Homo sapiens: one gene and its partners. The protein of the gene in region 1 purifies or fractionates together with the protein of each later gene. This does not show direct contact. Each region holds a gene or a part of one and is shown in the gene's direction. Other genes may lie near its edges.

Region 1 (7,026 bases):
TGTCTTAAAAAAAAAAAGAAAAGAAAGAGAATAATAGAAAATATCACTGCATCACATGCAGTAAAGGTAAATATTTTGTTAAACTTTTGTTCCAGTTTGTGTGTGTGTGTGTGTGTGCTGGGACGTAATGTAAAAGGTATCATTTTTCCAAAAAGTTTGAAAAACAATTTTTAATGGCTGTTCTTTATTCTGAGATTCTGTCTTTCATTTTTTGAATTTTTTAAAGTTTTTAAAGTCCTTACCTATCAGAATAAAACAGCAACAACCCTATGTCATTTGCCACTCTCCACCTTTTTCTTTTTCCCTACTGTTCCTTTTAATCCAAAAGTTTGGAAATCTTTGCTATAGTGGATTAAAACATGATTCGCCTTGTTTTTTTTTGTTTTTTTTTTTTTTGACAGAGTCTCACTCTGTCACCCAGGCTGGAGTGCAGTGGCGCAAACTCGGCTCACTGCAAGCTCTGCCTCCCGGGTTCACGCCATTCTCCTGCCTCAGCCTCCCGAGTAGCTGGGACTACAGGCGTCCGCCACCATGCTCGGCTAATTTTTTGTATTTTTAGTGGAGACGGGGTTTCACCGTGTTAGCCAGGATGGTCTCGATCTCCTGACCTCGTAATCCGCCCACCTCGGCCTCCCAAAGTGTTGGGATTACAGGCGTGAGCCACTGCGCCCGGCCAATTTGCTTTGTTGACAGTATAAATTGGCATAATGTTTTGGGGGAGCAACTTATATACAAAGAGACTTTAAAATGTTCATAAGATTTGATTCATTAATTTTCTTTATAAAAATCTATGCTTAGGAAATATCCTAAATATAGAAAAAAGTGTAAGTCTATTACAGTTTGTTGCATATAATAAAGGAAAATTAAAAACCATTTAAATATTCAATAAGGAACTAGTTAAGTAAACAAATAAATGTACATCCATTTATACAACCATTTAAACTAATAGTCATAATAATGTGAGAAGAATGCCTTTATAGTATAATATTAAAATCATAGAGTGACCACTCACATAGTGCTACGAAGTGCTAGGCCGTGTGCCTTTCCTATATTAACTCATTTAGTCCTTAAAATAACCCTATGAAGTAAGTCCTGTTATTATCCTCATTTTACAGATGGGAAAACTGAGCAGGTCATTTTCCAACAATTCGCTGACACCAACTGGATGTCCTACAGTTCAATTCGATTCTGACACTAACTACCTAGAATTAGCACAGACCCCCAAGTTAAGGGCTCAGTCCTACAAGGCCCTACGTTAGACACCAGCCATAGGTGGGATCCCCAAGCTATCTACACTTCAGCCTGGCCAACTACAAATTAAGCGGTTATCATGATCTTCCTTTCAGGTTCCATAATTTGCTAGAATAACTCACAGGATTCAGGAAAGCATGTACTTAGAATTATAATTTTATTATAAAGGATATGACTCAGAAACAGCTAAATGGAAGAGATGCGAAGGACGAAGTATGGGTTTGGGGTGATGCAGAGTTTCCTTATCTTCCCTGGGCAGCACTCTCCTAGCACATCTGTTTGTTCCCCAACCCAAAAGCTGCCTGAACCTAGTTGTTTCTGGGTTTTCCTATGGTGTTTCATTACCTAGACATAATTAAACTATTGGCCACATGACTGAACTTAATCTGTAGTACCCCTCCCCTCCCTGGATGTGGGGGTGGTGCTGAAAGTTAAACCCTCTAATCATGTGCTCCGTCTTTCCTAACATAAGTCACCTCATGAGCATAAATTCTGGTAAAGCTGACAGTGACTCATTATGAATAACTGACACTCCTATCACTCAGGAACTTCTAAGAGTTTCAGGAGCTCTGTACCAGGAACCAGGGGCAAAGAACAGTATATTTTTTATGTCACGCTGAGGCACAGAGAGGTTAACTTGTCCAAGATCAAATAGTATGTGACAGAGCTGAGATTGAAAATTTTAAAAATTCATATGTATGAACATATACAGGAAGGAAATATCCCAAAATGTTTAAGTTAGAAGATGGGATTATATTAAAACATATTTACTAGGATTATAAATTTATACATACAACGTCATGGGAAATGTAATCTTTACTACAACTTGGAGTGGAGATGTTGCATCATTTGACAATCCTAAAGTTGCAGAATATTAGAGCTAAAGAACCTCTTTAAAAATAAGGAACTATGATCCACAGCATGAGACTTGATCTATATCATACAGTGGGTTGATGACAGAACTGAAGCTAGAATCCAGTTCTCTTTGTTTCTGTCTGTCTCAATTTTATATAAATCAGCTAGATGCTCCTCTGGTCTGTGTTCATGTAGATTAGATATGGACACAGACCATAGCTTTCATATATGTTTGAGATCCTGGCCCTTTATTCAGACTTTCCGATTTTGTATAGGAATCCTCAGCCCCTCCCCACACTGAGACTCAAGTTTTGGCTTGGCGTAGGGTACCTCTGAGATGAAAGACCCAAATAGGACTCTCCTAACTGTCTCCCTGATCTAACCTTGGCCTCCATGAGGGGAAGAAGATAAATAAGGGTACAGTCTTCCCTTGGCAACCCCTTTTTCCAAGTTATCCCAGTTACCAACAAAATTTCTCTGTTACAGGGCTCTGTGGACTGTCCCACTCTGGAGTTTGAGTATGGAGATGCAGATGGGCATGCAGCCGAGTTGTCAGGTATGAGGTAGATGGGTCAGTAGCTAGTGGAAGAATGGCCAGGAGGAGAGGGAAGGGGCCTGTGATCTCCCTGGAAGCTTGTCTGTTCTCACCAAGTGGCTGTTGAACAAAGGCTGTTCTCCACATTCCTTTTCCTCTCCATCCAAGTGGTAAATATCTCTTTGTTTGTCTTCACATTTCCTTCTGTGATTCTCCTTGGCTATGGTATTCTTCATTCTGTCATTCTATCACTCTTTCCTGCTCACTCTTCTTTATTCTCTTTGAAAATAACTGATTTGGTGCACTCTCAAATCAGTTTTCTCTCCATCTTCTCCATATTCCTTCTCTTTTTCTCTTCCTGTCACCCATATCTTTGCCTGCCTACTTCTTTCTGCTGCCCTCTTTCTATCCCATGCCATCTCTTTTTCCTTTGTCTCCTCTACCTCCATCTTTTCCTTCTTCCTCTCGCAACTGCCCCTTATTAAAATCTCAGCAAAGTCCGAGGAAAAACTATAGTCAACTGGCCAGCTGAGCAAGGCTGGACATGTCACCTGCATCCATCATAGTAGAGTTCTGCTTGGATGTTTATGAGCTGGGGTTAAGTAATTCCATTCTTCTTTCAGTGCTGGCCTGCTTGTCTCTGTCTGGATTTTTAGCTTAGGGTAAATGTGATCTCCTCACATTAAGGGCCTCCATGTTACATGTGCTATGAATGCCAGTTATTAATAAACAAGCTTTGGGTGGAGATGTGTGAAATTTAAATATTCTGTCACATGGAAGTGATACTTTGAGGCATGCTTTTTCAGAGAAAAGAGACAAACAATTTTAAAGACGTTCTTGTGCATGAGCACAGAGAATAAATTTTGTGATGAGTGACAGAGAAATAGAGAGCTAAGTTTAATAACCAACAAAGGATTAGAATTCATAATAGGAATATGATATAAATATATATATATTTTAAAGAGAGGAGAGAGATGAGCAACCCAACAAAGAAATGGGCAAAGAATATAAATGGGAATTTATAGAAGAAAAAGCCAAATGGTCAATAAATATATGAGAAGATATTGAACTTTATTAGTATATGGGGAAAAGCAAATTAAAATAATAAAATATTATTTCACAATCATCAGAGTGCAAAACTTAAAAGCCTGGGGTTGGTGAGGGTGCAGAGAAATTAGTACTTTTATGCACTGCTAGACATGGGGGGAGCAGAGTATAAAATTGAAAAGCATTTTGCTTATATCTTGCAAAGTTGAAGATGTGCACATATTGTGACCCAACAAGTCTACTCCTAGATATCCACTCTAAAGAAAATTACACTTGGGCACAAGAAAATGTACAAAGATGTTTATTGCAGCCTTGTTTATCAGTGTAAAAAGTTGGAAACAACCTACAATGCTCATCAGTAGGGAAATGGATAAACTATAGCATATTAGTGCAGTAGGCTATTGAATAGCCATTAAAATAATAATTGATCTAAATCAATATATTTATTTTTTATTTTTTTATTTTTGAGACAGAGTCTGGCTCTGTTGCTTACGCTTGAGTGGCACACTCTCAGCTCACTACAGCCTTGAGCTCCTGGGCTCAAGTGATCCTCCCACCCCAGCCTCTCAAGTAGCTATGCCTATGGTCATAGGCATGCCCTACCATGCCCAGCTAATTTTGTGCCACCATGTCCAGCTAATTTTGTGCCACCATGTCCAGCTAATTTTGTTTATCTTTTGTAGAAACAGAGTCTCACCATGTTGCCAAGGCTGGTCCTGAACTCCTGGGCTCAAGTGATCCTCCTGCCTTGGCCCTCCAAAGTGCTGGGACTACAGGTGTGAGCCACCACACCTGGCCTCAACATGTTTCAGTATCAATAAATGCTTGGCCAGGTACGGTAGCTCACATCTTGTAATCCCAGCACTTTGGGAGGCCGAAGTGGGTAGATCACCTGTCAGGAGTTCGAGACCAGCCTGACCAATATGGTGAAACCTTGTCTCTAGTAAAAATACAAAAATTAGCTGGGCATCGTGGCATGCACCTGTAGTCCCAGCTACTGGGGAGGCTGAGACAGGAGAATTGCCTGAACCTGGGAGGCAGAGGTTGCAGTGAGCCAAGATCACGCCACTGCACTCCAGCCTGGGTGACAAAGTGAGACTCCATCTCAAATAATAATAATAATAATAAATGCTAAAGATAAAATTGGGACAAAGGATCAGTAACAAAGGAATTTATACAATAGGATACTGCTTGGATAAAAAAGTTTTTAAACAGAGCAATATCATATGTTTACAGGCATATGTGCATATAGCAAAAGTAGAAAAATAGGCTTGTGAAGGATACACACCAATTTCATTATAGCAGTTGCCTCTGGAGAAGGGAATAAGATAGACTGGGGAGCAGTCTGAAGCAAATATAACAAATGCTAACATTTGTTTGACCTGGGTAGAAGATAATACACAGGTGTCTTAAATGTACTATTCTGTTCTTACCTGTATATAAAAATTCATAATCTAAAATTTAAAAATAAAAAGACCAAGACTAAAGTTCAGTACCTAAGAGCCTTGCCCACTTTTCTGATTTGGTTTTTGGTGCTTTAATCTTAAAAATATATATATTCACCTCTCCACTAATGACTGAAGAATTTAAGATTCAGTGATGGGATTTGCTTCTGGTCACTCCTAGATTCTGGAACTTAAGACTCAAAAGCCCTGACTCCCAGACAAGGTGTTTCTCAACCATTAGACAGCTGGCTGGAACATAAGTGAATTTCTCTTGCTTTGTGAATTACCTGTGACCTGGTTAAATTTCCAGGAAGGGTCTCAGGTAGGGAGCAGAGATTTAAAGGAAATCTGTTCTATCATCTGTTGACTTCTGTATTTCAGTTCTTCATCTTCTGTAAGATGAGGGTACATATACAATGTTCTGGAGAGAGATAGAGAGAGTAGGAAAGGGCATTTTTATTTCTTTTCTTCTTTCTTTCTTTTTTTTTTTTTTAAGAGACAGAGTCTTATTCTGTTACCCCAGGCTGGAGTGCAGTGACATGATCATAGCTCACTAAAGCCTCAAACTCCTAAGCTCAAACGATCCTCCACCTCAGCCTCCTAAGTAGCTAGGACTACAGTCATGTGCCACTACACCTGGCTAATGTTTAAATTTTTTGTAGAGATAGGGTCATGCTATGTTGCCCAGGCTAGACTCAAACTCCTGGCCTCAAGCAATTCTCCTGCCTCAGCCTCTCAAAGTGCTGGGATTACAATCCTATAGGTCTGAGCCATCACACGTGGCTGGCATTTTTATTTCTCATAAGCTTTTTGCATTTTGTATTGAGAGGCTGCTGTTAGCAAAGTTAGATTTTCCTGGGCACAGCAGCCCTTTGACAACCATAGCTGTTCTCTAGAGTTTTTTTTGCAGCCTCTGCTTTGTGGCTGTGGGCAGGAATCTAAACTTCTATACCCTTTGAGGAAACTTAGCAGGGAGAGAATGAACTGGTTCCAACCCTGAAGAACCATCTAGCACTTACTTTTCAGCCCTTGCCATGGTTTCCTGATCCAGCACAAGGATCTTTCCTCTAAGTTTCAGGAGTTGTGTTGCCCTCCTCTTCTCTTAGAGATGGGATAGTTCCTGGTTGGGTTGACAAAGCAGGAGTTGCAGCCCTGAGAAACAGGAGTGATGAGATTAAGCTCTCTGTGCTGCAGTCCTCCTCTTGGCCCTCACCAAATGTTGAAGGCTGCCTTCTCTGCTGCAGCAGCCAGCTGGCAGGAAGAGGACAGGTTTGATGGTTTAATCTCCCAGGGACACAAGTGGCTATTTTTAACGTTGCTCTGAAAAGGAGGAAGCTAGCTTTGGATTCATTGGACACAGGAATGTGTTGGAAGCTTCAGCTCTTTCATGCCACCCTCTCTACTTTGGGCCTCTTCTTTAAGGATCTCCCGAATGTGACTGTTCTGTCTTTCCTGCCACAGAATTGTATAGTTACACTGAGAACCTGGAATTCACCAATAACAGGAGGTGCTTTGAAGAAGATTTCAAGACTCAAGGTAATTCCAGATCTTTACTCATAGAGACCTGCTTTTTCCTTTTATGATATACCAGCCTGATCTAGTAAAAGACTAAAACAAAGTGCGATCCTTCATCCCCTCTGTATTAGTTAGGGTTCTCTTAGAGGGATAGAACTAATATGATAAATAGATAGATATATATAAAGGGGAGTTTATTAAGTATTAACTTACACAATCACAAGGTCCCATAATAGGCTGTCTGCAAGCTGAGGAGCAAGGAGAGCCAGTCTGAGTCCCAAAACTGAAGAACTTGGAGTCCGATATTCGAGGGCAGGAACTATCCAGCACAGGAGAAAGATGTAGGCTGAAAGGCTAGGCCCATCTCTCCTTTTCATG
Region 2 (7,185 bases), on another chromosome or scaffold:
GGACAGTGCAAGACTCTCTCTCAAAAAAAAAAAAAGAAGACATTTATGGGGCCAACAAACATATAAAAAAAACCTCATCATTACTGGTCATTAGAGAAATGCAAATCAAAACCACAATCAGATACCATTTTATGCCAGTTAGAATGGCAATCATTAAAAACTCAGGAAACAACAGATGCTGGTGAGGATGTGAAGAAATAGGAACGCTTTTACACTGTTGGTGGGAGTGTAAATTAGTTCAACCATTGTGGAAGACAGTATGGCGATTCCTCAAGGATCTAGAACCAGAAATTCCATCTGACCCAGCAATCCCATTACTGGGTATATACCAAAAGGATTATAAATCATTCCAAAGGATTATAAATCATGCACACGTATGTTTATTGCAGCACTATTTACAATAGCAAAAATTTGGAACCAACCCAAATGCCCATCAACGATAGACTGGATAAAGAAAATGTGGCATATATACACTATGGAATACTATGGAGCCATAAAAAAGAATGAGTTCAGCCGGGCACAGTGGCTCACGCCTATAATCCTAGGACTTTGGGAGGCTGAGGCGGGCAGATCACCTGAGGTTGGGAGTTTGAGACAAGCCTGACTAACATGGAGACACCCCATCTCTACTAAAAATATAAAATTAGCCAGGCTTGGTGGCACATGCCTGTAATCCCAAATACTTGGGAGGCTGAGGCAGGAGAATCGCTTGAACCTAGGAGACAGTGGTTGCAGTGTGCCGAGATCGCACCATTGCACTCCAGCCTGGACAACAAGAGTGAAACTCTGTCTCAAAAAGAAAAAAAAAAAAAAAAGAATGAGTTCATGTCCTTTGCAGGGACATGGATGAACCTGGAAACCATCACCCTCAGCAAACTAACACAGGAACAGAAAACCAAACACCAAATGTTCTCACTCATAAGTGGGAGTTGAACGATAAGAACGCATGGACAAAGGGAGGGGAACATCTCACACCCGGGCCTGTTGGGGGGTGGGGGGCAGGGGGAGGGAGAGCATTAGGACAAATACCTAATGCATGTGGGGCTTAAAACCTAGATGATGGGTTGATAGGTACAGCAAACCACCATGGCACATGTATACCTATGTAACAAACCTACATGTTCTGCACATGTATCCCAGAACTTAAAGTAAAATAAAAATAAAAATAATGAATGATTCCCTAGGTTTAAATAAGGTTTTCCTAAGGTGTTGGTTTACTCTTAATGAAATTAAAGGAAATTTTGCTTTTTAATTCTATCACCTATTTTTTTTTAAAACTTCTCAGATTCATATCTCAGAAGTTCAGCTTTTGTTGTGTCTGGCTGTTTTCAGTTTTTTCCTCCCTTTGAAAAGGACACTCTCCTTCAACTTTTTCCATCAGCTCCTCTAATTCTTTTTCCTCTGATTCTAACTGTTGGGGCCTGATGCTGAAATGTTTTATCTTAGAAGTCTATAAAAGCAGTGTTTTCCTCCAATATAACTTGATTCTGTACTCCCGGCTTTTCTTGATATGTGATTTTCGTTGTAATCAGGAAACTTCTCACGCAATTGCTCAGAGAGATGTATTCCCTTGCTATACTCATAAGCATGAATACACTCTTCTTGTGTCTGATTAAATTCAAGCACTTTTTTCAAGTATGACTTTCAGGTTACCTACATGGTCTTCCCATAAGGAGAAGCAGTCACACAGCAGAAGGGGTTTTTTGCCTGTGTAGTAACTTGCTTAAGAAACAAGATTTTAATGTTTTATCAAATAATTCCCATGCTCTCTTTAATGGGTTTTTAATTGCCTAGAAAAACTGAGATTTAAAAGGGTTCAGGTTTTTATGTCCTGGTAACCTTCTCAATTGCCTTTAAAGTCTTTAATTATCAGTTTGGTTAAATGAGTAACTATTATTTTTACAATGAATATTATCTTGTTTTGATCAAATGTTTTGAGGCTTTTAAAATCTTTGACCAATGTCCTCAAAATCAAAATCGTAAATTAAGTCTCTGACTTATTGCTGGGGTTTATCGAAGCTATAAAAATTAATCACTGCAAGGTTGTAAAATATTTTTACAGCTTCCAGTCAGGTCATAGACTCCGGTATCACACCTCCAGCTCCTTGAAAAGGTCCTTATCAGGTGATATTAACTAATCCTTGTGCTTTTAAGTTATAGGGACTTACACATATCTCATCCAAAGAAGGCATCAACTCCTGCCAGTATCTGACACTAAACTGCAATTAACCAAAGCCTCATCGTTAGACTCAGGCAAAGGCGACAAAGTAAACTGCTTTCATGAGACACAGGGACAGTCTTGTGTTCAAAAATATTAAGATTCATTTAACAATTCTGCCTCTATCTGAATTAATATAATTTATTCTGTGCCTTGATACTAAATAATTTAAGTGTTTAGCTACCTATGAACTTCTTTTCCTGTTATTCTCAAAACTAGGCAGGGTTTATGACCTTTGTGTTTGAAATGTTGTTAATTCTTTCTGTTTTGTTTTACCTACAAAAGTTGAAACTCTTCAATCCCGCCATGCCTAGAGACTATAACGTAATGTTGTAAGGGCCAGTATTGAGAGCTAAAATTAGTTCAGACCCTACAAATCAAGGATGACACAGATGCCAAAACAGCTAAACAAAATGCTTGCATTTTGTATAGCTAATTGCAACAAGCCAAGATTACAGCAGCTCAATGCATAGAATTTATAGATAAGTCAATTTTGTAACCCTTGCCTTTTGGTTTTTGCCTCTTAACATTGCTTAAGAGGGGTTTTAAGGTTAATGAGTGCCTGCCCACCTCCTTCCCATCTGACCTAGAACGTTTAATTGGCTGTAACTCTTTTGACTCTAAGTCAGTTGGCCGCAGGAGGGACATGATGGACTCAGGGCAGGTAGCACACCACCCTGGCATTGATATGGGACAAAATTAAAGTTTGGACACTGATACTGTCTCTGGGATACCTTGACCAAAAAAAAAAAAAAAGTGGAATGCTGTTTTGAAGGCATGAGCCTAGCCATTCCCCATCTGCGAGCATTTGATTAGTAAAGCTTTCACCACAGGTCACTTCTCATGTTTTTGGCCTCTAGGCAGCAAGCAGCCAGACGTGAGCCAGTTGCAATAGCAGCATTATTGACAATAGCAAAAGGTGGAAGCAACCCAACTGTCCATCCACGGATGAATGGATAAACAAAACGTGGTATATATATATTATTCAGCCTTAAAAAGGAAGGAAATTCTAACATATGCTACTATATGGATGAAACTCGTGGACATTACACTAAGTGAAATAAGGCAGTTATATAAATACAAATGCTGTATGATTTCACTCATGTCAGGTACCCAGAATAGTCAGATTTGTAGAGACACAAAGTAGAATGGTGGCTGCCAGGAGCTGGGGATAAGGAAGAATGAGGAATTATTGTTTAATGAGTACAGAACTTCAGTACTGCAAGATGAAAGAGTTCTAGAGATGGATGCTGATGGTGGCTGTATAACAATATGAATGTACAACTGAACTGTACACTTATAAATGGCTGAGATATTAAATTTTATGTGTATTTTGCCACAATTTAAAAAAAATTAAATGAAAGTAGGCCAGGCGCGGGGGCTCACACCTGTAATCCCAGCACTTTGGGAGGCCGAGGCGGGCGGATCACTTGAGGTCAGGAGTTCGAAACCGGCCTGGCCAACATGTGAAACCCCGTTTCTACTAAAAATAGAAAAATCAGCCGGCGTGGTGGCGCATGCCTGTAATCCCAGCTACTCGAGAGGCTGAGGCAGGAGAATCGCTTGAACCCTGGAGGCAGAGGTTGCAATGAGCCAAGATCGCGCCACTGCACTCCAGCCTGGACAAGAGCAAGATTCCGTCTCAAAAAAGAAAAAAATAATGAAAATAAAAAGAAACTAACTGTGACTGAAGAACAACCCACATCAATGAAAACCAGTAGGGAAAGGAGACCTTCCCACTGCCCAGCTAATCATAGCCTGACCACCAGGCTGTGGTAACTGGAAACCAACGGCGTGGCAAGTGTAGGTCTGGGGCTCCGCGCAAGGAAGGACTGCAAGGAAGCCGCAGGTTAAAGCGGGTCAACCCGCAAAATAGGCTGCCACTGCGCAGGCGCCCATTGCGCCTACCAAGACACCTTGTAAACGTGCCCGGAAATGACGCCTGTAATGCTGAGACAGACTCCCAGAAGATCTGAGCGAGTCGCGTAGCTGAGCCCGGCAGGGGCTGGGGTGGTGCTGCTGCTATGAGCTGCACCATCGAGAAGATCCTGACAGACGCCAAGACGCTGCTGGAGAGGCTACGGGAGCACGATGCGGCCGCCGAGTCGCTGGTGGATCAGTCGGCGGCGCTGCACCGGCGGGTAGCAGCTATGCGGGAGGCGGGGACAGCGCTTCCGGACCAGGTCAGGCAGAGGGTAGGAGTCCAGTGCTCTCGGATTCTGGGCACTGAAGGGTGGAGAGCGAGGTAAAGTGGGAACTCGGCCTGGAATTTATTCCCGGTCTCAGAGGGCGGCGGTGAGACCATTTTCCTGGGTCGGGGCTGAGAATCCTGCCCTGGAGCCCTAACTTCTGCCTCTTCAGTTGCATCTGCCGCTGTTCTCTTTAAGGCATGCTTAGTCTGTCTCTATTTGTCCAGTATCAAGAGGATGCATCCGATATGAAGGACATGTCCAAATACAAACCTCACATTCTGCTGTCCCAAGAGAACACACAGATTAGAGACTTGCAACAGGAAAACAGAGGTTAGTCAGGCCTTTTCATATCTGGTAATAGTTTAAAGTTATTGCAAAATTGCCCTAAACATTTACAAAAGTGTACATATATTTCCAGGTCAGTACTTTTAGTAGGAGAGTCCTCCTGATCTGGCCCAGTAACAATAAAGTTTGTTAGATTACCCTTTTCAAGGTCATCTGACTAATATTGCAGCAGCTTACCAAAGAGGTGCTGTGTAGAGTTGGTATTATTGCATGGTTTATTTTTAAGCATCCTCAGATGTGTAACAAAAGAGTTCATAGCCTCATGGACTTAAAATTTAATGTTTAAGTATTAATATAAACACTGAAGGTAAGATTTAAGGTTTTGTTTATGTTCTTGTTTGTGCAAGGTGAAGCAGCAGAATTTTATTCTAAGGGTATATATTCTTAGGCTTGATTAGTACATTATTAATGATTGTGGTATTAATAGTTGTTTACCAGAGGGGTTTCACATATATCATTCTACTGTATTCTCATATCTTCATTTTTATCTACCACAATGCAGTTAAGAAATAGGCTCAGAAGAAGCTAAATGATTTACTTATGAGTATTAACCAAGCAAGTTACAGAACTGAACTCAAACACATGTCTTCTGATGATACATCCATTGTTGTTTCTGCAAGACTTTGCTTCTCTGCCTAGAAAGTTACCTTTCACATAGACTTTAACTGTTCAGTTTTGCGGACTTAAACATTGATTTACAACTTTAGATTCATATTATCTATATAGTGTTACAAAATTCCAACTGTTAAGACTTTGGATTTGGGAACTGTCTCTCAGACATCACTGCCAAGTTCTTTTATTTTTTGACAGAGCTATGGATTTCCTTGGAGGAACACCAGGATGCTTTGGAACTTATCATGAGCAAATATCGGAAACAGATGTTACAGTTAATGGTTGCTAAAAAAGCGGTGGATGCTGAACCAGTCCTGAAAGCTCACCAGTCTCACTCTGCAGTAAGAAACTTTGAATAAATTCGAAATGAACCAAATTGAAATCTTGAGATTGTTTTAGATTGTGTGCTTGTTTTTTTGCTTTGTGAGATAGGGTCTGGCTCTTGTCGACCAGGCCGTGGTGTAATGGCACGATCTCGGCTCACTGCAACCTCTGCCTCCTGGGCTCAAGCCATCGTCTCACCTCTGCCTCCGGAGCAGCTGGGACTACAGGTGCACACCACCACGCCCTGTTAATTTTTGTGGGGTTGTTTGTTTGTTTGTTTGTTTGTTTGTTTTTTGGTAGAGATGACATTTCGCCATGTTGCCCAGGCTGGTCTGAAACTCCTGGGCTCAAGCGATCCACCCACGTTAGCCTTCCAAAGTGCTGGGATTATAGGCATGAACCACTGCGCCTGGCCATGTGTGCTTGTTTTTGAAGAAAAGTAAGCTCATTTTCCTTTCATGTTTATCACATTTGTTGTTTATTTTGCCATGGCTTTGTAAAGATATGAATAGAAAGAAGGAGGATAGGGGCTGCTCAGATCCTTTTATTTGAGTGGGACTAAGGTTCCCCCTCCCTCACCAAGATCTCTTTTGAAAATGTTCATTAATTCTTAGCGCTCCCACCAAACATAATGCCAGTTAGTGTTGAAGCTGCCTGGTAAACACTTGGTTGGTTATTACTTATACATTTAACTTAAGCTCCTTGCTTGTAAGGCGCATGAATTCACATTTTATTCCTAACATAGTACCTGACATACAGCAGGCAGTCAGTAAACCTTTTATAAACTGAACCACATAGTATCATACTATGTTGTTAGGGGAGAGAAGTATGGTTTTTTAAAAAAACAAACATGGCATAGTTTCTGTTCTTTGCTAATTTGGGAGACTCAGTAATTGTTCTTATGTTTATAGGTGCTTCATGGTTGTCATTGTACATTCTTGTGTACTGTATCATTTAATTCTAGATGTATAGGGTTGGAGCCTACTACTTCTGTGAGATGTAGTGAAATATAAGCTTCATCTTAAATTCCATTGAATGCATTTTACTGACTTAAAAGTTTTAGGAAACAGATATTTTAAATATTTGAATGGCTTTCATCTGGAAGAGAAAAATAGATTTTCTTCTCGTATGGAGGAAAAAACTTGAACCTTGAAAGAGACAGAGTTTACTCAGATAGATAAACTTTCTAAGTGATATGTCCAAAGATGGAATAAAGCACCTTGGAATGTAGTAAGCTTCCTGCCAGTAAAAGTATTCAAATTTAAGTTAAACAGCCACTTAGAGATAGTATCCAACATCCAATGGGTAGTTAAACTACAATTGATTTTTTTTTTCCATTTCAAATCTTTTTATTGGAGTGTGGACCTACTGGGGGATTGATGCACTGGACATAGATAATTTTCAGAAATGAAAATAACATTGCTTGCATCGAATCAGATTTCACCCACAAAAATGACTAAGGCCTTACCAGAGTTGGCATTGGATGAAACCTTA
Region 3 (7,026 bases), on another chromosome or scaffold:
TGTATCACAAGAACAGGTGCAGCTTTAGTGCACTAAGTTTGAAAAGCTGAATGAAGCTTACTATAGTAAAATACCAGTTATTAAAATTGGCTTGCAGAAATTCGTCCAATATAAGTAAACAACCAATAGCAACCAGGTGTAAATAGTTTTATAGGCTAATTCTACCAAACCTTTAAGGAACATATAATTTCTGTGTTCTAGAACTTGGGAAAAGATGGAGAGTTCAAAACTCACACCGTATGCCTAGTATAACCTCAATGCCAAACCAGACGTGGCACGCACAGAAAAATAAAATCAGACCAAAGTCATTTGGAAAAAAAATTCCTATATTTATGATTCAAAACTCAGTTATTTTATAAAATAATAATATTAAGTGGATAAAGAAACGCCAGTTGTACTATCAGCTAAACATTAGAAACCTTCTCATCAGGCCAGGTGAGGTGGCTCATGCCTGTAATCCCAGCACTTTGGGAGGCCAAGGCGGGCGGATCACCTGAGGTTGGGAGTTCAAGACCAGCCTGGCCAACATGGAGAAACCCTGTCTCTACTAAAAATACAAAATTAGCCAGGCATGGTGGCACATGTCTGTAAACCCAGCTACTCAGGAGGCTCAGGCAGGAGAATTGCTTGAACCCGGAAGGCGGAGGTTGCGGTGAGCCGAGATCACGCCATTGCACTGGGCAACAAGAGCGAAACTCCGTCTCAAAAAAAAAAAAAAAAAAAATCAAAATCAGAAAGAAAATGCTTGTTAAAACTTACGTTATTCTCTCTGATTCAGAATACCTAGAGCATGGACTTGAAACTAGGTAGTTTACAAAAAACAAAACAGAAAACATTTGTATTATTCCATTTTATTTTAGAAGTCCTGGCCAATGCACTAAGCAATAAAAAGAATTAAAACGTATAAACATTGAGAAGAAAAAACAAAAATAGTTTTGCAAATGACTTGATTATGTACTTAGAAAATATGAAGGAACTGAAAATTTATTGTAGCCAGTAACAGGAATCAGAGTGTTTGCTGTAAGAGAAACAAAAAATTGTATATATCAGCAATAACCAACAGAAGCTGTAATGACAGCTGGGTACAGTGGCATGCACCTGTAATCCTAGCTTCCCAGGAGGCTGAGGCAGGAGGATTGCTTGGGCCCAGGAGTTCATGGCTGCATTGCGCAGTGATCAAGGCTGTGAATAGCTACTGCTCTCCATCCTCAGCAGCACAGCAAGACTCCATCTCTACAGAAAGAAAAGAAAGGAGGGAAGTGGGGAGGGAGAAAAAAAAGAAAGAAAGAAATTTAATGGTAGGTACCAAGGATGGGGATACCATTGACCAGAGAAAAGGAAGGGAGGGAGGGAGGGGAAAAAAAAAAAAAGAAATTTAATGGTGGGTCCCCAAGGATGGGGATACCATTGACCAGAGAAGGGGTAAAGAAGAAAAAATGATGGACAAAATATGTTTAAATGTTGGCACTATTTGGACTGACACTTTTAACCATTATTTACTCTTTGTTAACTGTTTGGAGTTAGTAAAACAAATACATTCTCTTTTGTTAATTCATACATAGATATTCTGCCTCCATGGTGGCCTCTCTCCATCCATAGACACACTGGATCATATAAGAGCCCTGGATCGTTTACAGGAAGTTCCACATGAGGTAAACTTAATTTAAAAAAGAAGAAGAAAGGAAAAGAAAATATAACCACATTTTGAGGATGATAAAGTATGACTGATAATAATTTGTAACATGTACTTATTTTTCTTGGCCAGGGCCCAATGTGTGATCTGTTATGGTCAGATCCAGATGATCGTGGTGGATGGGGTATTTCACCACGTGGTGCTGGCTACACATTTGGACAAGACATTTCTGAAACCTTTAACCATGCCAATGGTCTCACACTGGTTTCTCGTGCCCACCAGCTTGTAATGGAGGTATGTACTTTCCTGACAGAATGATCTTTATTTCAGATTAGTATATACTTCTGTAATAAGGCATTATGACTTAACTAAGAAACATTCCTCACCATTTATTACCTAGGTGAAAAGAGGAAAAACTTGCTGGTTTTAGCAAGTAGGGAAAGCACTAGTAGACCAGAGCAGAATTATAACTCATTTTTGAAATTGAGACTTAGAAAAAAGTTACAAAAATAGTACCCCATAATTCCCTGTATGCTTCATTCAGATTCCTGACTGTAAATATTTTACTATATTTGCTTTATCATTTTGTGTCTCTCTTCCTCTTCACCCCTCACACTTTCTTCTGAACCATTTGAATATCTGTTGCAGACAGATACTCCTTTACTACCAACTTTCTATGTGTATTTTGTAAAATTAAGGACACACTGTCACATAACCACCGTATAGTTATCACAGTTGGGAAATTTGTGTTCATATAGTACTGTTATTTAATATGAACACTTTATTCAAATTTTGCTAATTGTCTCACTAATGTCTTTAATAGCAAAATTTAATTTTTTGTGCATACTGTATGTGCATAGTCGAATCCAAAGATTAGGTTGTATTCATTCTACTTTGATGTGGAAATCCTCCGATTTTCATTGTTTTCCACATTCTTGACATTTTGGAAGAGTAGGAGCATTTTATCTTACAGAAATATCCCTCAGTTGGGGTTTGCCTGATGTTTTCCTTGCAGTTAGGGATTCAATGTATGCATTTTTGGCAGTCATGACATAGAAAGATGGTGTGTCCTCCTCCGTGCATTGTATCAAGTGGTCCTAAAATCTGCTTGTCTCAATGCTGGTGGTGGCAACTTTAATTGCTTAGTTAAGATGATGTCTGCCAGATTTCTCCACTATAATATTAACTGTTATACAACTACTAAGGGAACATAAACAACATAATCCCTGCAGACCAGTAGGGAGTGGCTTCAAGATGTTTAGAGAAAACTTCGCCAGCCCAGTAGAAACAAGGGAGCATGATAAAAAAAACACAAATTTACATAGTAAAAATAAATTTAATTATATCAGTGATTATAAGAAAGAGACTAAAATTTTAGCCTGAAAGAGACTCTTAGATTGGATAAATAATCAAAATTTAGCTGTTATTTGGGATGTACCTAAAACATAAATGATTGGCTGGACAAAGTGGCTCATGCCTATAATCCCAGCACTTTGGGAGGCCGAGGTGGGAGGATCTCTTGAGTCTTGGAGTTTCAGACCAGCCTGGGCAACATAGTGAGACCTCATCTCTATATAAAAAAAAAAAAAAAGTCAAAAAGTTAGCTGGGCATGGTGGCATATGTCTATTGTCCCAGCTACTCAGGAGGCTGAGGTGAGAGGGTCACTTGAGGCCAGGAGGTTGAGGCTGCAGTGAGCTATGATCGTACCGCTGCACTCCAGCCTGGGCAAAAGGGTGAGACCTTGTCTCAAAAAAACGAGGAAAAAGAAAAAGACACCACAAACTAGAGGTAAGAGTTGGAAAATGGTATATTGGTATATCAAGTAATTAATCAAAATATCAAAAATATAGCTAATGAGCTGGCGTGGTGGCTCGTGCCTCTATTCCCAGCACTTTGGGAGGCTGAGGCAAGCGGATTGCTGGAGCTCAGGAGTTCGAGACCAGCCTGGGCAACATGGTGAGATCCTGTCTCTACTAAAATACAAAAAATTAACCTGGTGTGGTGGCACGCACCTGTAGTCCCAACTACTCGGGGCTGAGGCAGGAGAATTGCTTGAACCCAGGAGTTGGAGGTTGCAGTGAGTCTAGATCGCACCACTGCACTCCAGCCTGGGCAACACAGGATGTGTGTGTGTGTGTATATACACACATACATACACTAATGTATGTATATATATGTATACATATATACACACATGTATGTGTGTATACATATATGCACACGTATATATACACATATACACACGTATACATATATGCGCACACATACATGTATACATACATATATACGTGTATGTATATACACATGTATATACACATGTATACATATATGCACACACATATATACATATATACACGTATATATACATATGTATATACACATACATTAATTAGCATGTATGTATACACACTATATATAATACTATAGCTAATAATATGAATGAGATAGGCTCTAATAAAAGGTATTATTAGAAATAAAGAGATTATTGATGAAAACTGGCCCAGTTCTCTAGGAAGAAAGTATTCTAAATTTGTATTTACCTAGTAATAGCTTCAAAATATATAAAGAAAAAATTGGCATAATTCATGAGGGAAAATTGAGAAATTAATTATGATTGTGGGAGAAATTCAGTACACATCCTTGCCAAGATTTCAAGCATAGATACGGCAAAACAACAATTAGCGAGCTGCATTTAACAGACTCCTAGGCCCACGAATTGCACAGTATTCTTTACAGGTACACAAACTATTAAAGATGGAGACCTTATATAGTAATATAGACGACTACATTTCCACAGAGAGTACCTGTAGTTTTTGAGTTTAGTTTTTTTTAAATGTGTCTGTGTCAAAATCATAATATTATAATGAAATAATGAATTTGTTTTTATCCTGCAGGGATACAATTGGTGTCATGATCGGAATGTGGTTACCATTTTCAGTGCACCCAATTACTGTTATCGTTGTGGGAACCAGGCTGCTATCATGGAATTAGATGACACTTTAAAATATTCCTTGTGAGTAACTGTAAATTTTAATTGTATATACTTTCAGAAGGAAAATTTTAAATGTTAAAAATAGAAGATTTCTGTTTCTGAAATTGGATGAGGAGTATAGCAAAGCCCCTCTCCAGCAAAAATAACCATTAGCTGGAGAACATTATTTTTAAAAAATAATTTTTCAAAGCTTTTGGAAATTGTCCTAAGGGCATACAGCAGGTGGAGAAACAGTTAATTCAAGAAAACCTACTAAATCTCAGTAATAATAGCCGTAGTCTGTGGCATTTGAGCTATGACTTGCCCCCTCCAACTCCTCCCAGATCCCTCTCACAGAAACGACTACAGGCGCTCTACGCTGGGTTGGTATAGTCAGGAGGCTAAGGGATTCCCCCTCTTCATCAGCTCCCAGGGCTGGGGCTGTGGGTTCACTCCCAGAGATCAGATGCCAGCATATCTCACCTCTCCTAGTCTGGAGTTACAAAAGCTCTACTCCTGGTAGACACAGTCAAGCAGGCTGAGGCCCCCTTCCCTGCCCCAGCTCCTGGGGCAGAAGCTCTGCTCCAGGCATGCATGGCAGATGAGAATGCTGGGTTTCCCAATGCTGTTACCCCAGCACCTGCTTATAAACCAGGTGGTATCACTGAGCCTGCACTGGCACAGAAGTTCTGCTCAGGAGGAAAGGCAGGTCACAGAAGTTCCTCAGCTCTGCCTCAGAGGACTTATCTTACTTAGGTGATGGAGAATTCCAAATCTGAGTGCTTTGTGGAAAGCAGTAGATGTCATGGTGGAGACCAATTAAGAGGGCTGTAATAGCTCCCATGATACTAGGAGCAACATACAAAAGAGCAGAGCAACATGTTGTTCAACAAATAGCACCAGGGAAAAAGCCAAGAAGAGCCCTTCTGGGATCACAGTCAGCCCTGGGGGACAAGAAGGCTGTGCACATGCACTAGCCATACCCACTCAGGAGCAGTCAAGAGTAGGATGTGGGGTATTCATATAATATTTTCAAGCCACACATAGATTGTACTGAGTTGAATAATGTCCCCCCAAAAAAATTCATGTCCACCCAGAACCTCAAAATGTGATGTTATTTGGAAATAGGATCTTTACAGATATAATTATTAAAGATGAGATTGTACTGGATTAGGGTGGGCCTAAATCCAATTCGAATGGGATTTTAGTAAGAGGAAAAGAAACACACACAGGGGAGAATGCTGTGTGAAGCCAGAGATTCAAGTGATGCATCTACCAGCTAAGGATTGCCAGAGCCATCAGAAGCTAGGGAGAGGCTAGGAAGGATTTTTCCTAGAGCCTTCAGAGAGAGCGTGGTCCTCCCAGCATCTTGCTTTCAGACTTGTAGCCTCCAGAACTGTGAGAGGATAAATCCCCGTTGTATAAGCTATACAGTTCGGTAATTTGTTACGGCAGCCCCAGGAAATGGATAAGTAGATTGATCAACAAATGGTGTAACCATCACTAGTATGTGAGGCTTAAACACAACCTCTCATCATTGACTGAACGACATTCAGTTACTCTGATCCAGGAGCACCTCCTAGGTAGTCAGGCTTTAAAATAAAATCACACTCATCCCTGACAGTCTGGCAGAATATGTGCATGCCCAAGGTTATACCCTCTCTGGACTGAGTGCAGTATGAAGATCCAACTATTAGTCCCTGGCTGAATGGGAAGCCAAAATATAAACTCCTTCAGCTTTGATAGCAATCTGCAAGTCACATAACATTTCCGGTGGCCATTAGGGTGAGCTTTAAGATCTAACTGGCCAAGGGGGCTTAAGTACAATCTTTGATCAGTAAGTGGCTTATGCCTACCCAGAGACAGCCCCTCAGTAGCCAGGCTGTGAAAGATTAAAAGAAGTAAAAACGGTCAGGCACGGTGGCTCATGCCTGTAATCCCAGCACTTTGGGAAGCCGAGGTGGGCGGATCACCTGAGGTCGGGAGTTCAAGACCAGCCTGACCAACATGGAGAAACCCAGTCTCTATTAAAAATACAAAATTAGTTGGGTGTGGTGGCGCATGCCTGTAATCCCAGCTACTCAGGAGGCTGAGGCAGGAGAATCGCTTGAACCTGGGAGGCGGCGGCGATCACGCCATTGCAGTCCAGCCTGGGCAACAAAAGTGAAACTCAAAAAAAAAAAAAAAAAGTAAAAACATCCGAGCAGGGCCACAGGGGCTGCACACTATGGGGGAAGTAGACTTTACAGTTAGTTCAGCTAAGTCACTAAACAAAAATAATAAACCACCAAAAAGACAAGATCAGTCCCCAAGGACATGAATTCCAGAGCTACTGCAATATGTTATCTATAATGTCCAATTTTTCAACCACAGATTATAAGACATGGAAAGAACAAGGAAGTGTGACCTCTACACAGGAAA
Region 4 (7,490 bases), on another chromosome or scaffold:
TGGCTCCTGTAATCCCAACACTTTGGGAGGCCGAGGCAAGTGGGTCATTTGAGGTCAGGATTTCGAGACCAGCCTGGCCAACATAGTGAAACCCTGCCTCTACTGAAAATATAAAAAATTAGCCGGCAGTAGTGGTGCGCGCCTGTAATCCCAGCTACTTGGGAGGCTGAGACCGGAGAATAGCTTGAGCCTGGGAGGCAGAGGTTGCGGTGAGCAGAGATTGGGCCGCTGCACTCCAGTCTGGGCAACAGAGTGAGACCCTGTCTCAATAAATAAATAAATAAATAAATAAATAAAATAAGTCCAAACTTTACACATAATTCCAGGAAATTGCTACTCAGCTCCAAATATTCTATAAATCAAAATTGAAAATATTTGTTGCATTCCCCATCTTCCTAACCCACTTAGCATGATGGAGAGATGATAGAGCATAGTAATTTTGAGAGTGCACTTTGGAATCAGATCTAAGTAAATATTCTGTGTTCATCACTTATGAATTCCATGACTTTGGACCTCTTTGTGCCTCAATTTCCTCACCTGCAAAAGGGGACTGTTAATATCTATCTCGTGGAATTCTTTTAAGGGTGAAATGAGATGTCATATAAAAAATTGCATAATGCTTAGCACATAATTTGATAGCTTGATTAATGTATCTAGCATATATCATTATATTAAATCATAGGCTGAAATGATCTTTAGGAATTATTCCACTACTTTCATGCCTTTTATCAATGAACTTAAATGGAGTTAAGTGAGAAGGTTACTTTGCCAAGTAGGTTTGTGTATCGGGTCGAATGATGTCCCCCCAAAATTCATGTGCACCCATCTCAGACTGTGAATTTATTTAGAAATAGGGTCTTTGCAGATGTCATGAGTTCAGATGAGGTCATGGTGGAATAGAGTAGGCTCTAAGTACAACATGAGTGGGGCCTTTATAAGAAGAGGAGAGGACATACAGAGACGCTGAGACATAGAGAGAAGGCCATGTGAAGACGGAGGCAGGTATTGGGATGATGTAGTTACACGCCAATGATCACTGGGAACCACCAGAAGCCAGGGGAGAGAGGCATGGGATGGAGCATCTCTCAGAGCCCCCAGAAGGAGCCAACCTTGTCAACACCCTGATTTTTTTTTGTTTGTTTGTTTTTTTGAGACAGAGTTTCGCTCTTTGTTGCCCAGGGTGGAGTGCAGTGGCGCGATCTCGGCTCACTGCAACCTCCATCTCCTGGGTTCAAGCGATTCTCCTGCCTCAGTCTTCCAAGTAGCTGGGATTACAGGCACCCGCCACCATGCCCAGCTAATTTTTGTATTGTTAGTAGAGACGGGGTTTCACCATGTTGGCCAGGCTGGTCTAGAACTCCTGACCTCAGGTGATCCACCCACCTCAGCCTCCCAAAGTGCTAGGATTACAGGAGTGAGCCACTGCACTCGTCCAACACCCTGATTTTGTACTTCTAGCCTCAAGAACTGAGACAGAACACATTTCTGTTGTTTTAAGCTGCCCAGATAGAAACTACTATAGTTGATGACAGAATAAGAACTAGACTCCAGATTTTTTAACCTCTAGCCTAGACCTCTTTTACTCCATTGCTGCCTCCCCAAACCAGCAATAAACATTTATGGAAATTTACTTATTTGGAAAAAAATTGACACAATCTATAATTTTTAAGCACTTTAAGTTGTTGCCTGACACAATAGGCATTTAATAAATATTTTACTGTCCAGTTGATAAAATGATAGACATTAAAATGTTATATTTTGTTATACAAATCTAAGATATTGTTATGAACCATTTTTTACCTCTGCGTACACCTATGCACCAGACTCTAAATTTATTTACAAGGTTTATGTATTGAAGAATCACAAACCTCCATAACTCTCTCACTGCTACAATCTGAAAGATACACGAGGTTCACAAGCCCTGCCTGTTCCCTACTTCTAGGGGTGAAAAATTAAAAGGAAAGCAATCTGAACACCCTCAAGACTCTGAATCCTACAAGGCAGGGATGTTCTCATTTTTGCTGAGTCCTTCTACACTCATTTAGGAATACGCAGAAGGGAAGCCAGGAAATCAGGGGAGTTGCCCATTGCTCTAAAGGAAGTAGGTCACAGAGCACTGCTCCCACCCAGTCAGCCAGGGAAAAGAATGGGTGGTGGTGGGTTAACAGCTACAAAGGGAATGAGGGAAAGAAAGGAGGACCTGCCGGGCATGGTGGTTTACGCCTGTCATCCCAGCCACTTTGGGAGGCCAGCAGGTGGATCACCTGAGGTCAGGAGTTTGAGACCAGCCTGGCCAACATGGCAAAACCCCATCTCTACTAAAAATATAAAAATTAGCTGGGCACAGTGACAGGCGCCTATAATCCCAGCTACTCGGAAAGCTGAGGCAGGAGAATCGCTTGAACCCAGAAGGCGGAGGTTGTAGTGAGAGATTGCGCCATTGCACTCCAGTCTGGGAGACAGAGCGAGACTCCATCTCGATAAAAAAAAAAAAAAAAAAGAAAAGAAAAACAAGGGAGGAGCTGATTCACTAGAACAACTCTTAGAGTGACTCAGAAGCCAGCAGAAAATAGCTTGTTCTCCCACATCTGCTTCATTGTCAGGCGATGAGGCACTTCCTCATTGCATACACATAGGCAGAGCGAAAGGGAGGAGGAGGAAATGGGATTTTTCAAGTTCCTTTGCCTGCTCCAGCACCTAACACTCTGTATTTGTAATCATTTCAGACATTTTGTTTCAAGTCAATATTTATTGAGTACCTACTCTGTGCCTGGCCCCTCATTTTAGCTTTCAGATTGTCAGTTTTCAGAACACAAGGCATAATGCCTTTCTGAAGTTCAGTATACCCTGCATCATTACTCCAGATTCACTTACACTGCTATCGAGCACCTTCACTCATAGTCTTGCTATCCTTCATATACAGAGATGACCCTCCCAAGCCTAAAATCAACAGGGGGAGGCATAGAGCTGTCCTTCTGGCTCTAATGTTTGCTTTACCATCATCCACGCCCATTCTTAGTCCAGCATGTGAGAGCCAGTGTGAAGTGAGCAGAATATGGCATAAGTATGGAGTCATACATCCTTACTGGAAATTCTTTACCATTTACTAGCTCTATGACTTTATTTGACTTCTCTGAATCTCTATCTTCTCATCTGTAAATTGGACACAATGATGTCTATCCTACACTGTAGGATAGATTTCTCATACAGCACTGAAAATGACATCAAATACCATTAAATGAAAGTACATGGCACAGTGATAACATGATAAATACTTGTTTACTTCTTTCAGACTATAATCGCACAAACTGATCACATCCCTCAGTCAGACTGTAAACTGCATGAGGCAGGCTGCATCTGCCTTGGGGACTGTCTGCCTAGGCAAGCACTAGGTCCCTAATGCTGTCTTGCGAATTATAATTGCTAAGTTTAGGGATAATGTATTAAGTGTACTACATTATTTATGCATTATGAATATTCGTCTCAAATATTTATTATATTGTATTTTAAATAATGTGGTTATTGTAAATGTAACCAGCTGCATCAATCTGTGAGCTGACAGCCATTCTGTGGAAAAGGAATTCAGAAACTTTGACCTTAGGTAGGGATACAACTAGTTATACATCCACTCCCCTCTCTGAGTTATTTGGTCCTGCCTAAGACTTGCTGCCACCAAGATCTGCATTCCTGTGTTCACAAGGCAGACATTCCTTGCATCCTCTGTACTCTCCATTGTTTCAACTTCACTGCAAACACCATTCCCCACAATATAATGAGGCCAAGGAAAGAAAAAAGTCGCCTCAGCTGGCAAGCATAGGGTGGAAAAACCTGCCACACAAATTTGCAATTATTTGACTTCCGCCTGGAAGGCAGGTCGGCTGGGTTTATGTCCCCCAAAGTTAGTATCCTCTTCTGTACAAAATGTGGTTGAGAGAAGGGTGATCTCCAGGTGTTTCATCTTTGCACCCTTGCTTCCAGCACCACGCCCACAGGCGCTTCCAGAAAAAAGAAAAAAAAAAAGGGAGCAAGGAAGCCAGGTTTTTCAACAACGAATTCATTCTAATGCAGACACCAAAGCCCACTTCATTTATTAACATTCTGGATAAAATCCCAATCGATTAGGCCACCAGAGCCCTCCATTCCTAAACTCCGCGTACAGTCAGGTAAAAGCACGAAGCACTAGTCACGGTCCTGCCCAGACTTTTCACGCAGAGGTGGAAAGTTGCAGACCCCGAGCCGGGAGGGGCGCGAGCCCACCCTGAAGCCCAGGACCCAGGAGGGCGCTTCCTCCCGGAAGTGACGCGAGCTCAATCCCGGCCTTGCTCTTCCCAAACAAAAGGGATCTTGGGGCCCCGGGAGGAGCCTGAATGACTTTGGAGAAGCCCCGCCTCCAGCCGGCGCGGATTGGGGCCGAGGCTGGAGAAGCAAGGAGGCGATTGGCGCTGGTGAATGCCAATGCCCCCGCCGGGCGGCTGAGGGGGCGGAGCCTCAGCCGCTGTGGATGGGGAGTGGAGGCGGAGGGGAGCGGAGCCCGGAGCGTCGTGGAAAGGTAGGAGCAACTATCCCTGGGGCTTGGTGATGGCTGGGAGGCCGGGTTCTCAAGAGCAAAGCAAGGATAGGGGCACCGGTAGCCTCCCGCCGCCGTCTCAACGGCCTCTGGGCCCATCCCCTGAGGGGGCGGGGCCGTCTCCTCCACCTCCCGGTATTCCCCGAGGAGGCGGCTCCTCATCCTCCGAGGGTCCTCACAGCTACTTTTTGTCCCTCGTCGATTCCCAGCTCCTCAGAAGGGGCTTCCCTCTGACACCCCTCATTCAAAGGCACCTCCCACCCCGCACCTCAGCCTTGGCGGAGAGGACTCACAGGTACCGATTCTCTAGGCTGCCGCCCCCAACCCCATTTCGTACCCCCGGAAGGCCAAACATCCCTCCCTACACCTGTCCCTGCTCGCCAGGGTGGGACTGGAGCTGCTTTCCTCCGTAAGATAAAATTGGTGTTTCCCAAAAAGGAGGGATGGGGCGAAGCAAAAATCAAAGACCGACCTAGACAGCCAGCTTTACGGAGGAAGCGGCTTCTCCCACTTAAGTTCTTCCCATCCCCCATTCTCTGATGCTCAGTCTTCCTCCCGCAGCCCCTCGCATCCTCTGGCCTCTTGTGAGGAGTCGAGAGCTCTCCTGTTTTGGGACTGTTTTGGACTGTGAAAGAGGGAGAACTAGGACCTCCTCTCCTTCACCCTTTGTACCTTCCTTCTACTTTCTGTTCCTTCTGGGAGCACCCAGCCTCTAAGGGTTTCTTAGGTTTGAATTGCGTTTCATTTTTCCTTTTCCACCCTATTTCCTCCCTGAGAACTTGATGAAAAGCCATCTTATATTTCACAGTGAGGTGGGTGTGTTGGATATCTGCAGAGCTGGCTTTGTGTGGGCAGGAATGCAGTATATGTTGCTTGACAGTCAATGAATAACACCATGTTTTCAAATGAAACAGTATACATAAGTAAATAAGTAGCAGTGGATTAGGAATGAGTATATCCCAGTCTAGGGTGGGCTGGTCCATTGCTCAGGGAGACTGCAGTTAACCTTGAAGGTATACTGCAGGTTGAAACAAAAGACAGGAAGTGTTTGAAGAAAATTCAGGGTCAGTCATCTAGGTTTATGATTAATCTAGTCCTATGTCCTTTGGTAACTCTCTAACCCCTTTTTTATAGTGTCCTCCCCGCCCCCAGGAAACATTCATGTATATTTTGATTGGTTTTACGATCATCTATCAAAATTTAGAGGATGAAAAGTAAGAACAATTTTTAAATCTCAGAGATAAGAGTAAATAAAGGCAAGGTATTCTAGCTATTCATGTTTACCAAAAAGTGCCTCTTCTAGTGTGCTCCTAAAGGTTTTGTCAAGTGGTCTTCATTTCAGCAGGTGCAAAGTGTTGATTTTGACCTCATGTTAATGTCGTTGAATCCCCAGTAATCATCTATTGCTAGCGCTTTTATATATTAAAATTTACCATGTTTTTAGCATAGTTTCTTTTGCTTCCAATCTCAAGTCTACCTCCCCTCTGTCAGCTATAGCCAAAGCTGATGGCAATAAAATGCAAGGAGTTGGAATCACGGAGGGTGATTGTAATGACTGTTGTCTTTTACCTTCTTGATTAGACTTTCTGAAGGTAGACTTCCTAAAGATAATTACTTTTGAATAGTTAGGTTTGAAGTTTTCAGAGCCACTCGGTGCTCACAGGTCTTCTCAGTGATTGTTTCCAAATCTCCAGTAAGAAAGTACAAAGAAGAAACTGGAGGGTGTCTCTAGCAAACGCAATGTGTGCTGCAATAGAAGGGTAAGACGTGAGCTCCCAGCAATAACAGCAGAAAAAACTAAAAGCAGAACAGAAAATCCCAAAAAGATAAGTTGTATTATATCAACAGAGAACAGAAAATAAACTAAGGTAAGAGACTAAGCAAACCAAAGTTGTGATTGCCGAGGTTTAATAGGAAAAAGCAAATAATATTCTTTTATTATTTAGCACAGTAAGCAAGATCTGTTTGTTACACTTTTGGGTCTTGAAAATCTTTCCTTTAACCTTTTCAACACCTGTTTGGTCATGCTAGGTGAAGAAAAGCATAGTATGCAGAGGATAGATGTCTGATCTCTCTCCTTGAATTATAAATTCTTTGAGGGCAGATAGTAGTATTTTTTGTTTTTCATCTTTATATCTTTCACAGTTCCTAGTATATAGTATGACTTCATGAGTGTTTGTTTAACTTAGTTTGAGGCTGTCACCTTAGGGTAGACTGAAAGGCAATGTACTGATTAGATTTGGCACAATTTGTTAGTATAAACGGCCTACTTGTTGTCTTCATTTAACTTGATTTTCCCCATCTTCTGTCTTATGAAATTCCAGTGTCTTAAGTGACTAAAATTTTGAATTTCTTATAAAGAAATATCTGTGAGGCAGGGTGTGGTGGCTCATCCCTGTAATCCTTGCTACTTGGGAGGCTGAGGCAGGAGGCTTGCTTGAGCCCAGGTGTTTGAGGTTACAGTGAGCTATGATCATGCCACTGCACTCTCCAGCCTGGGCAGCAGAAAGAGACCCTGTCTCTTAACAAAAAAAAAAAAAAAAAAAGTTAAAAAAATATATATGTAATCTGCTAGTTAGAAAATACTATTTTACTGTCATGAAATTTGAACCAGACTTAAGAACGTAATGAGTGCTAATCATTTTAGGATTTTATTGTTCTAAATATCTGACCTGATAGGAATGAAGTGAATTTAGGAGAGATCACTAGGGACTGATTGCTGATTTTTGTTCAAGAATAGTTTCTGAGGCCAGGCTTGGTGGCTCACATCTGTAAACCCAGCACTTTGGGAAGCTGAGGCGGGTGGATCACGAGGTCAGGAGTTCGAGACCAGCCTGGCCAACATGATAAAACCCCGTCTTTATCAAAAATGTAAAAAATTAGCTGGATGTGGTGGCATGCACCTGTAATCCTAGCTACTCAG

What was found.
Region 2: the proteins of STRIP2 (region 1) and SIKE1 purify together in Homo sapiens (affinity purification with mass spectrometry; 3 studies listed by BioGRID and IntAct, with this or other methods). This does not show direct contact.
Region 3: the proteins of STRIP2 (region 1) and PPP2CB purify together in Homo sapiens (affinity purification with mass spectrometry; 5 studies listed by BioGRID and IntAct, with this or other methods). This does not show direct contact.
Region 4: the proteins of STRIP2 (region 1) and CTTNBP2NL purify together in Homo sapiens (affinity purification with mass spectrometry; 2 studies listed by BioGRID and IntAct, with this or other methods). This does not show direct contact.

Annotation. Positions count from the first base shown.
Region 1 is NC_000007.14:129,437,430-129,444,455, forward strand, and holds part of STRIP2 (striatin-interacting protein 2), read left to right. Parts: intron 1-2,592; coding exon 2,593-2,662; intron 2,663-6,594; coding exon 6,595-6,669; intron 6,670-7,026. UniProt on the Homo sapiens protein: Plays a role in the regulation of cell morphology and cytoskeletal organization. Required in the control of cell shape. Calmodulin-binding scaffolding protein which is the center of the striatin-interacting phosphatase and kinase (STRIPAK) complexes.
Region 2 is NC_000001.11:114,777,665-114,784,849, reverse strand, and holds the start of SIKE1 (suppressor of IKBKE 1), read left to right. Parts: upstream 1-4,164; 5' UTR 4,165-4,242; coding exon 4,243-4,401; coding exon of another isoform or gene 4,402-4,413; exon of another isoform or gene 4,414-4,463; intron 4,464-4,634; coding exon 4,635-4,740; intron 4,741-5,565; coding exon 5,566-5,708; intron 5,709-7,185.
Region 3 is NC_000008.11:30,788,818-30,795,843, reverse strand, and holds part of PPP2CB (serine/threonine-protein phosphatase 2A catalytic subunit beta isoform), read left to right. Parts: intron 1-1,562; coding exon 1,563-1,652; intron 1,653-1,765; coding exon 1,766-1,927; intron 1,928-4,528; coding exon 4,529-4,647; intron 4,648-7,026.
Region 4 is NC_000001.11:112,391,724-112,399,213, forward strand, and holds the start of CTTNBP2NL (CTTNBP2 N-terminal-like protein), read left to right. Parts: upstream 1-4,490; 5' UTR 4,491-4,549; exon of another isoform or gene 4,550-4,862; intron 4,863-7,490. UniProt on the Homo sapiens protein: Regulates lamellipodial actin dynamics in a CTTN-dependent manner. Associates with core striatin-interacting phosphatase and kinase (STRIPAK) complex to form CTTNBP2NL-STRIPAK complexes.